2 separate regions of the Homo sapiens genome follow, and region 2 is linked to region 1. The links come from fine-mapping of genetic effects on gene expression. A gene starts in region 1. The other region holds a variant in brackets. All regions are shown on one strand. Distances are from middle to middle. Region 1 holds the start of CLN6 (CLN6 transmembrane ER protein). Region 2 holds the start of CALML4 (calmodulin like 4).

The links.
Region 2: its variant is fine-mapped to the expression of CLN6 in whole blood (INTERVAL, PIP above 0.99).

Annotation. Positions count from the first base shown.
Region 1 is chr15:68,227,192-68,232,191 of GRCh38, reverse strand. It overlaps CLN6 (CLN6 transmembrane ER protein), which reads left to right and starts at 2,464. Exons shown (of 7, transcript NM_017882.3): 1 at 2,464-2,690. The coding sequence starts at 2,608. RefSeq lists enhancers at 1,720-1,769, 3,000-3,079, 3,110-3,179 and silencers at 2,421-2,600, 2,370-2,959.
Region 2 is chr15:68,202,637-68,208,059 of GRCh38, reverse strand. CALML4 (calmodulin like 4) reads left to right here and starts at 2,728. Exons shown (of 5, transcript NM_033429.3): 1 at 2,728-2,815; 2 at 2,909-2,939. The coding sequence starts at 2,813. It overlaps CLN6 (CLN6 transmembrane ER protein), which reads left to right. Exons shown (of 7, transcript NM_017882.3): 7 at 1-1,068. RefSeq lists an enhancer at 1,735-2,029. The variant C/T (reference allele first, on the strand shown) is at 1,917.

The DNA.
Region 1 (5,000 bases):
AGCAAGACTCCGTCTCAAAAAAAAAAAAAAATATCGGATACAGCTATAATTGAAAAGTAGTGGGAACCTCTACTAAAAGAAAAGTCAAAACCACCAAGATGCATAATACCAAAGGACCTTCTCAGCTGAAAGATTTCTTGATGCTGGCCACTGAAATTGCAGCTCAGAGAGCTGAGACTAGACTCCCTTCTGATGTGCAGGGCCCATGTTCTCAGATAATCACAAACAAGATCCTGCAAATGTGTACCCCTCAGCTTTACTCTATCCTCCTCCCCCAAATTTCCATGCAATTTAAAGAGCTAATGAAGATGGTGTTTTTAAAGTGTCCTGGTGGGATGGGAAAGAGAGGGGGCTGATAATCCCACCGGACAGGGAGAATTCTCATCTTGTTCATTCAGAAAGGCCCAGCCCCCTGCCAGGTTGGACTCCCCTCCCCTCAAGGGGTAGCAGCGGACTCCAGAAAAAAGGCAGATGTGTTTGTATTTAAGAGATTGGAGGATTAAATGAGCTAGAGAGGCTCCCTCCACACGGCCTCATCCTCTGATGGCTGGAAGCCCACCTCTGAGTGTTATTAAATCGATGATGACATCATGGGCACTGCATGCCCCTCCCTCTGGAGCCCAGCAGGCTTGCAAAGCCTGCAGAGGATAAGAAATTGGGGTCAGAGCGGGAAGCCTCAATCCTTCTTCTCTGGTGTATACCGAGATCGATGTGTAGATCAGATTCACCAGAATTAAATCTGGGGCCCCGTCTGAGTGCTGTCCTTGGCTGACCCTTGGGCACAGTACTTCAGCTCAGGGCCTAGGTTTTTCTCTGCTACAAAACAGAGACAATCACCTGTTCTCCTTACGACCTGGTGTGTGTGGATCAAATGAAACAAGGAAAGCTTTAAAGCAAATGTGTTCTTCAGGGGACCAGGGGCGGAGGGGGGGGATTGAGGTGTGGCCTGTGGGCTGCTAGAGCCCAGGATGGGGCTGATGGAAAATGACTCCCAGGCAGGCAGTCCTAGCCTCCCACAGCCAAGAAAGGACATGCAGGTTCTGACCAAAGGGGAAAGAAATAAATCCAATAAACATCTCCCAAGAAGAAAGACAGGAAAGAAAATAGAATGGAAATAGGCATAGCTCAGACCCCTCATGGTCTGGGAAGCAGACCAAGGATACTGGGCAGGGGAATGGCACATTGCATTTGCATCTGAGGCACATCCCTTCCAAGAGGCACATCCCTTCTGCAGCGGCTTGAGGGCTGGGTGAGAGGAGACAGGACTGGAGACCTGCACATGTCGTGTGCGCCTGGTGTAGCACGGGGGTGGTGGGGAGAATGGGAGTTGGTTGCAGTTGTTCTAGTTAGCGGCCTGGGCTGCTGACAGTGACCGTGGGGAGGAGAGAGTTTGTGACATTGACAGTGGTGTGGAAGGTAACCTTTCTGTGGAGGGAAACCTCAGGTCTCGAGACGGGCTATTGTAAATAACTTAGTCCACCAGTGCTGGGCTCTCTGCTAAGAGTTTCATATAGTCATCACAACTCCAATGTAGTAGATGCAATAGGCATCTTCTTGTTACAGATGAGTAAACTGAAGCTGTGAGGGGTTGAGCCATTTGCCCGCATCACAGCTAGTTCAAAGTGGTACCACTAATGAAGTCCTGGCAATCTGCCCTGCAGGCTGTTCTCAGGTTTGACCTTTGGTTCTGTTTTTCACTTGAGGATGCTGTCCCCTTAGGTTCTGTCTGTCTTGTATGCTCCGGTGACTCACGAGCCTGTCCACTGGGTTCCCAGGTCTCGCCTCAGCTTCAGACCACCGGTCCAACAGCCTTCCTGACCCACCTCAAGCTTAATGCGTTCAAAGATGAATCTTTATTTACACGAAATCTGCTCTAGCCCACTTCCCGGGGGGTGCCTCCACTATCCACCCAGGGGCAGAATCCGGCCACTGCCTGAACTCTTCTCCCCTCACCCCCCACATCCAGAGTCCCAGTCACCATACCTCTCACACGACTCTAGATGTCACCAACTCGCTCCTTCCCACTGTCACCGCCAGCCCCTCACTAGAACATCTGCAACCCACGTGCTGCACCACGCGGGTGCTACACGTGCAGGTCTCCAGTCCTGCCTCCTCTCCTCCACCCGTAAGAACAAGGGAAATCCCACAGAACCCTCTGCCCCGGGGAGCATTTAAATCAGCTTAGTCTATCTCCAGGTCGCTACCCCGCCCCAGCCCAACACCCAGGCCTCAGTCACCCTAGACAGAGATTCCCGTACCCAGGCAGGCAAGGGACCCTAACACATCCCAGCCCGCTGGTGGTCACGCGCGCAGCCCGGACAGGCCAGCAGCCCCCGCCCCGCGAGGACGCCACACTCGCAGCGCCCGGCCCTCCCCTAGCGGAGCCCGCCCCGTCTCCCTCCGCCCCGCCTCCCTCCGCTCCGCTCCGCTCCGCTCCGCCCCGCCCCGGGTCCGCAGCCCCGCCTGTTCCTCCCGAGGGCCGCGCGCTCTCGCCGGCCCGCCCCGAACCGCCCCGCGCTGGGAATTTGCGGCGGCCTCCGCCGGGGCAGCCGAGCTGAACCGGTCTCTTCCTCGGAAAGGCAGGGCCGAGGGGCCTGCGGGGCAGCCATGGAGGCGACGCGGAGGCGGCAGCACCTGGGAGCGACGGGCGGCCCAGGCGCGCAGCTGGGCGCCTCCTTCCTGCAGGCCAGGTGGGCGCGCGCCGGGGTGAGAGGGCGGGCTAGGCGCCTGTGCGCTGGGGCCTCGGGACCCGCCACGTGACGCTCCTAGGGCTGCCGGGCGGGAACCTCGTGTGCGGCGCTGGCCGGGGCGGAGCGGAGCGCGGGGGGCTTGGAGGCGCGCTACCGTGGCGGCGGTGCCCCCGCGTTTCCTTCTCTGTCTGGGGAGCCTGGGGCCCAGCGGGGCTCGGCCTCCCCGCTTCGCCGTTGCTCGGGTGGGAGGAGCGCCCGCCCGAAGTTTGGGGTTTTCCTCCCTTCCCGCGTTCCAGCGACCCGGGCTGGCGCCGGGACAGCCGCTGCGCTGGGAGAGCTCCCCAGGGCGGTGGGTACACACACCTCGTCACTCGGACCCCCAACTTATCCGCAAGTTCCGGGCGCCACCTCCGCGTTCTCGGGGTCCCTCCAGCCCTGAGTAGGACTTGATTCTGTCATTTATCAGGAGGCTGTCTGCTTGACCTGGGGCACCCAAGAATGTGCGAATGTAATGGAAGAGACAGCGGGGAAGGGCGGAAGCTGCCGTCCAGAGAATGAATGAGGAGCCCTTCTCAGTTTTTGGTTTATCTCGTTGGGCGAGCAGAGCTCCATTCTACCTTCGTCCCGTTTTACTGACCAGAAACATTCACTGCATTCAGCAGGCATTCTTTAAGCGCCTGTGGTATGCCCAGCGCTGTGCCAGGCAGTAAGGGGGTAGGCAGGGTGAAGGTGGGAGAGGCTTACGGTCCTGTAGGGATCAGGAGAGACAGAGCCCAAGTGGGAGTGAGCGGTCATCTTGGAGGGCTTCATGGAGGAAGTGGCACTTGAGCTGAGTCTCAGAGGACTTGGTAGGGGACCCAGGGAAGACAGGCTGTTCCATCCAGGGAAACAGTGGGGAAGGGCAAGGAGTTTAGTGGTGCTGGAGCTTTCCGGCTGTAAAAGAAAGTGACAGGAGGATGCAGACTGATTGTGAAGGGCCTTTAATTGCAGCAAGTCTAGGACTCGAGTTGAGGACCTAGATTGCAAAACTTAGGGGTAGGCGCACTGCCGTGACCGTGAGTGCCGCCTCAAATGTTGGGCCTTGGAGGCCTTGCTTGTCTCACCCTAGTTCCTGTCCTAGGTGACAGGTTAAGGACACAGTCTTTATCCCATAGGCACTGGGGAGTCGTGAGAAGTTTCTGAGCACTAGCATGCGCAAAGTCCTTGTTAGGAAGTTTTTGGTACGACCTGGATGAAGGGAGAAGTCTGAGCGCTTGGGCTGAGGTGAGGGATGGCTCGTTTCTGCTGCTGCGGACATGCGGGCTGAGCAGCTGCGGACTGTGTCCGTTTTCACTTAGAAACAATGTACTGGCCATAGACCGCATACTGTAGCTCACCTGTCTCCCTCGGCCTGTGAGTTAAGTATTATTTTACTGATGAGGAAATAGGCTTAGATGGGCTGAGGAGCCTGACTGGCTGAGTCCCCGGGCTGTCTGCCCCACGCCGTGTCCAGTGGTTTCATCTCTGCTGTGACCCAACCCATTTACCAGCTCCCCTCTTCCAGGCAGCCTCTTCTGCCTGCGGGATGTCTCTGTTCCGAATCCTTGCCAAGTTGGGGGTCACTGACTGCCCTGAACTGTGACAGCCCAATGGGAACAGCCTGTGGGTCTCAGATAGGGTCACCACTTTATCTCCTGTGTGGGGCTCCCATGTCTAGCATCTTACTCAGTCTTGACAATGAGCTGCCAGATGTCACTTCCAATGTACAGATGGGGAAATGGAGGCCCAAAGAGGTTACATCATTTGCTGGCAAGAACCAGGGCCTAAACCCAGGGTTTCTGACTTACGGGCTCTGCTCTTACGACTCCACTTTGGCTGCTAAGGAGTCATGTCCCTCTTCCCCTGTGTGAGCTCCCCACCAGCCAGGGTATTCCCAGGGGGGTGGTGTGAGGGTGGGAGCTCTCTGTCTCCCAGGGTGTCTCTGCCCCCCACAATGTGGCTTCAGCCCATTCCCAGTATCATTGCTGCTCAAGAGAGTAGGCAGAATCATCCTGTCCAGTTCCTAGGATGCTTGGATTTCCTCTGCTGCATCCGTGCTTTGCTCACTACCTCTTAAGGTAACCCATTCCAACGTCCACCTGCTTTGTTGCCAGTTTTTGTATTATAATGAAAGTGTTACAATTAGGCCGGGTGCCATGGCTCACGCCTGTAATCCCAGCACTTTGGGAGGCCAAGGTGGGTGGATCACTTGAGTCCAGGAGTTCGAGACCAGCCTGGCCAACATGGAGAATCCCCGTCTCTACTAAAAAATACAAAAATTATCCAGGTGTG
Region 2 (5,423 bases), 24 kb after region 1:
TGTGGGTGTGTAACCAGAGACCGAGAGCATGAGTGGGGTGTGCCTCGTGTGCGTGGATTCGTGTGTGTGTGTGTGTGTGTCTTGTATATGTGTGCGCAGAGTGCATCATTTTCAGACTCTACTATTTCCGTCAAGTTTCTGTTTGATTTGGATCATCTCAGGATCGGATTCTGTTTTAGAGTGTTTCTGGGCCAGGATCCGGGCCCCTGCCCTCCTCTGCACCTGACCACACTCCCTACTCAGGGCTAGTCTGTTCTTCCCGGACATCTTCTGGTAGCCGTGCAGGAGAGGGCTGGGTGGGGCAGAGGCCAGGAGGGGACCTGGTGTGTCACCTGCCCACCACCTGGCTCATCCCTCAGGCCCACCCTGACCCTACATTACATAGGTTACGTCAGCCTACTGTGGCTGTTGAGCAAAGCATTTCTCCTTTCTGGGCCTCATTTGCACTAGATGGGCCTGTGGTCCCAAAGTAGGTCAGTAGGTTGGGGTTGCTGACACCCCTTGGGTGCAGCTTTGGGACAGATGAGTGGCTCTGTCCTGTCACTGCCCTCTCCCTGCCTGGGGGCTATGTGCACTCCAGACCCCTGCCCAGGCTCAGGCCCATGAGGTATGGAGACACCCTGGCCCCCAGGAGCTGGAGGCACCGCCCACTCCCCTGGCATTCCAGCTTTGCAGGTGACCCTCCTCTACCCAAAGCTCTGTCCCCCTGCTCCCACTCCAGAAGAACTGCGGCACGCGCTTCGGGCAGCCTAGCCACAGGCTTTGAGCGCCTGCATTCCTGGGGGCTGGAGGGTGGGGTGCCAAAGGCCCTGAGCAAAAGCCAGAGCTCCTCTCATCAAAGCCTTTACAAGGTGCTGGGCCCAGAGGCTTTGCCTTGACAGAGTGGCCCAGGGTTTCAAGGGAGGAGGAACCTCCCCCTACCTAGGACCCTTCCTGTGGGGGGTCTACAGAGTCAGGGACAGAAGGGAAGGGACCCACAGGAAGTCACAGTGGTGCCCAGGGATGTGTCAGCCCCCAGCCACGGGGACGCGGGATTCAAGAATGAAGTAAATACAGTCACAGCCCCAAGTGGTGTTAGAGGTGTTTTTTGTCTTTTCTCCCTTTCGTGCTGAGGTGTAGCACACACGGTGCGCCCTACAGCATGGTGAGTTGCTGTATCGTGAACCCTCACGCAGCCATTGCCCCACGCTGGTGTTTTCCATCTGTGCGTCACCCCCGGAGACACCTACACACATAAGGAGGGAGTTGGCCGGGGCACCCCAGCACACACTGGCCTAACTCCAAGGAGGCACCTCATCTCTTCTGGAGCCCCTTCCCACAGGCAAGGGGATTCAGAGGGAGCATGTTGGCCTGGCCGCCTTCAGGCTTCCAGAGTCCCAAGTGACTTTCCTTGATGTCCTTCTCTCCATCCTCTGCACAGAGGCAGCCTTCCCTCCTCTTATCCCTGCCATGGGGTTTGGGAGGGGGAGCCTCAAACTCTGACAGGGAGGAGTCGGAGTCCCCAGCTAAAATTCTCTGGGTCTAGAAACAGGTGTAAAGCGATTCTGGGGATGTGATTTGGGAGAAAAGCACACTTTCCACACAGAGGCGGTCAGGAAAGGAGCGGGGAGGGGAGAGTGGGGCACAGGCAGCGCCTCCCGTCTATGCGCCTGTGTGCAAAGTGGCACAATGCCCCCCTTCCTATTGGCAGTGCAGCCCCTGGCCAGCAACCACTCGCACCTGGGCTGGGGGCCTTTGTGTAGGGCACACCTGTGCAGCCACACCTACTTGTAGAGCCTCATAGACTCAGCTGTGGACAAAAGCCTCACGCCCCAAACAGGGAAATGGGATCTCAAGGGGAAGAAGCTGGGGAGGCCTCACACCCTGCCCCCATTTCCTCCTATGTGGGGGAGGGGAGCAGCACGAACTCCTGAAGA[C/T]TTGGGAGCGTCAGCAGCTTCTGCGGAAGGGGTGGGGCTGAGGGTGGAGAGAGGAAGGGAAGGAAGAAAAGGGGAGCCTTCCTGGCCAGGGTAACCGGCACTAAGAGGCCTCACTCCAAGCCCCCGAGGAGCCTGTGGTGGGGCTGGAGACCCGGCTCAGGCCCCTCCACCACCCTTAAAGTCCTCAGAAGGTGGGAACTGAACTGGCACAGGATGGGAACCGGCTGTGCGCTGGCCACTTGATTTTGCCAGCTGCCCTGTAATTCAGCTGGTGAGGAAACTGAGGCACAGACTGAGGTAGAATGATTCGCCAGTCACTCAGCAAGTCAGCAGACGGGGAGGACTGAATCCCAGCCTGAGAGCACCGAAGCTTGTATCCCTGCAATACCGAGCCCCAAGCCTGCGAGCCCCGGTGCCCATCTCTGAGTTAGGCCGTCTTGGAAGGGTTCCCTTCCTCCTACAAGATGGTGTGTGAGGAGCCTTCAATACGACCCGGGGTGTAAAGTGTCCAACTCTAGTAGGGGCCTGATGGCATCCCCGCCGAGTCCCAGGAGAGAGAGAGAAGACCCCTTCCTGGAGTCCAGGGCTCCCGGGAAGAAACACTGGCATTTGTCCCTTTGCTTCGGCTTCTGGAGGCAGAGACTCTGAGCCCAGGGAGAGCCTTCTGCAGCCCCATTTCCTCAAAAATCCAACCTGCCCAGGTGGCGGGTCATGAGCTGTGCTCAGGAAGCTGGAATCTGACCCTGGTGGCGTCGGGCCCAGTCTCCATGGCAGCCGAGCATTTATTACCCGGGCCTCCACCCAGCTTGGCAGACTTTAGACTTGAGGCTGGAGGAAAGGGAACTGAACGCGGTTCTGGGAGCAGCAAGCCCACGGGTAGCAGCCGAGGCCCCAGAATGGTGAGTGTGAGGGTCTGTGTCGGCCTGGCCAGGGCTGGGGGCGTGAACCTCAGGTGGAGCCCTCCCCTGACTGTTTTCCTTTCTCTGCTGCAGGCCAAGTTTCTTTCCCAAGACCAAATTAATGGTAGGTTGGGTTTGTTCTTTGATTAGCAACTCAGCAAAATATGGGTCTCATTAGGCAATTTGCTCTGCTCATGTTTTCTTGGTGGGAAGGAAGGTGGCTGTGGGAGAGCTGGGCCCACCCAGGGCCAAGAGCTGCGGGGAGGCTGCTGTTGGCGGGGTGGGGGTTGGGGGTAAGCCTCCAAAATAGACATGTGGCTTTATACTTGTCAGTGTGACTTACAAGCCAGGGCGCTAAGACAGAACTTACTAGGTTTCCCTCCAGAACCTGACCAGTTGGATTTGGGGACTGAGGGGACTGGGGATGGAGAGAGAGACCATTAAAGGTATGGCTGGCAGCAGGGAAAGAGGAGGGGCTTTGTAATTGAGACAGAACAGAGGCCAGGTCTGCACTCTCTGGCAGGATGCGTCTACTCTCTGCGCCTCAGTCTCCCTATCTGTAAAATGGAGGGTCCACTGAGCCCCCTTTGCCCTGGCATCAAGCCTGGTTTGGGCGTGAGCACTTTATTCCCTGGGTCCCCTACTCTGCCAGCCCTCGACCAGGCTTCAGTTTCACACCGTGCAGGGTTCTATTTCCAGAAGGCCAAGAGCAAAGAGTTGCGTTACAAAGAACTTGGGGGCCCAGACCTGAGCCAGGGGAGCCTCATGGCTGCAGCCCCCCTGCACCTGGCAGGAGAGGCCCAGGAGGCACAGCCAGCTGCTGCTTGAGGTTGTGACCCTGAAACCTGTCCCAACAGTGGACGTCAATGGGCCTGAGAGTCCCCCGAGGCATCCCATTCCTCCAGGTCTTTGCTGAAACATCGCCTTCTCAGTGAGTCCTTCGCTGACCACTGGAGATAAAATTACAGGCACCTTGGGCCCTTGTGATCCAGGGTAGGGTCCTGAGAGCCCAGCCAAGTGGGGTTAGGGTTACCTGGGCAGGAGTTCCAGAGTTCTGGGTATTCTGAGCTTGGTCCAGAGGGGCAGGAATTGTGAGCTCCAGGTGGGCACCTCCACGTAGAACCCTGGAACTCTTTATCCCAAGAGGAGGGCCAGGGCAGGAGCAGGGACTTTTAAAACACAGGGCCCGGGGCAGTGCCCTCTTGTCCAGGTCTAACGGTGATAATGAATGGTGGACTGAGGGCTGGAGTCCAGCCTTCAGCCTCAGCATCCTCCCACCCATGCCTGGTTTTGAGGCTCACTGACCCTCCCTCCTGGGATAGCCAAAGCTCCCAGAAGGGAAGAAGGTAAATTGTCTTTGTATCCCAGTATCTGACACCAAGAAAGTGGCCACCAGTGTTTAATGAGTGTGTGAAAGACTGGATGGGGTGGCCTAGCGAAGTGGGAAGAACAGGGGCTTTGGAGGCAGCAGACCTGAAGCCTAATCACCCTTGAGCCTCGGTTTTCTCACCTATGAAGTAGGATATGCCACCTTACCAGGCTGCTGCGAGCCACGGACAGAGGGGAATAATGTCAGTTACATGCTGGACGCTGGGCCAGGCATAGCCAGGTGTCACCCACATGTGGGCTGGGGCTGGCTCACTACAGCTAGCAAGAGCCATAGTTTTAGGAATTTTGCAAGCAGGATGTTAAAGCCAGCCATTATTAAATAATGTAGGATCAAACAGTGTTTCAATCCCTACATCTATCTGTACAAAAAGTTAAAAAGACAGCCCTATTGTGATCAGTGGAGATGGAGATTTGAAAGAAGTTTCAATTTAATGAATGTGTTTGGTAAAAGGGTGAGAAATAGTTTAACAGTAGATCACATCAGGTTTAATGACCATTCATTCATTGGAAAAAGAATCGCACTCATTGGCGCGCAGCTTCATTTGTCAAATCATGGTTGAATCGAAACTATAGGTTGGCAATGGATATAAGAGTTGGCAAAACTTGGGCTGAGTGCAGTGGCTCACGTCTGTAATCCCAGCACTTTGGGAGGCCGAGGCATGTGGATCACCTGATGTCAGGGGTTTGAAACCAGCCTGGCCAACATGGTGAAACCCCATCTCTACTAAAAATACAAAACTGGCCAGGTGCAGTTGGCTCATGCCTGTAATCCCAGCACTTTGAGAGACCGAGGGAGGCAGATCACCTGAGGTCAGGAGTTTGAGACCAGCCTGGCCAACATGGTGAAACCCTATCTCTACTAAAAGTACAAAAATTAGCCTGGTGTGCTGGCAGGCACCTGTAATTCCAGCTACTCAGGAGGCTGAGGCAGGAGAATCACTTGAACCCAGGAGGCGGAGGTTGCAGTGAACCGAGATTGAGCCACTACACTCCAGCCTGGGCAACAAGAGCGAGACTCTGTCTCAAAAAAAAAAAAAAAAAAAAAAAAGCCGGTCATGGTGGCACATGCCTATAATCCCAGCTTCTTGGGAGGCTGAGGCAGGAGAATCACTTGAACCTGGGAGGTGGAGGCTGCAGTGAGCTGAAATTGTGCCATTGCACTCTAGCCTGGGCAACAAGAGCAAAACTCTCTCAAAAAAAAAAAAAAAAAAAGTTGGCA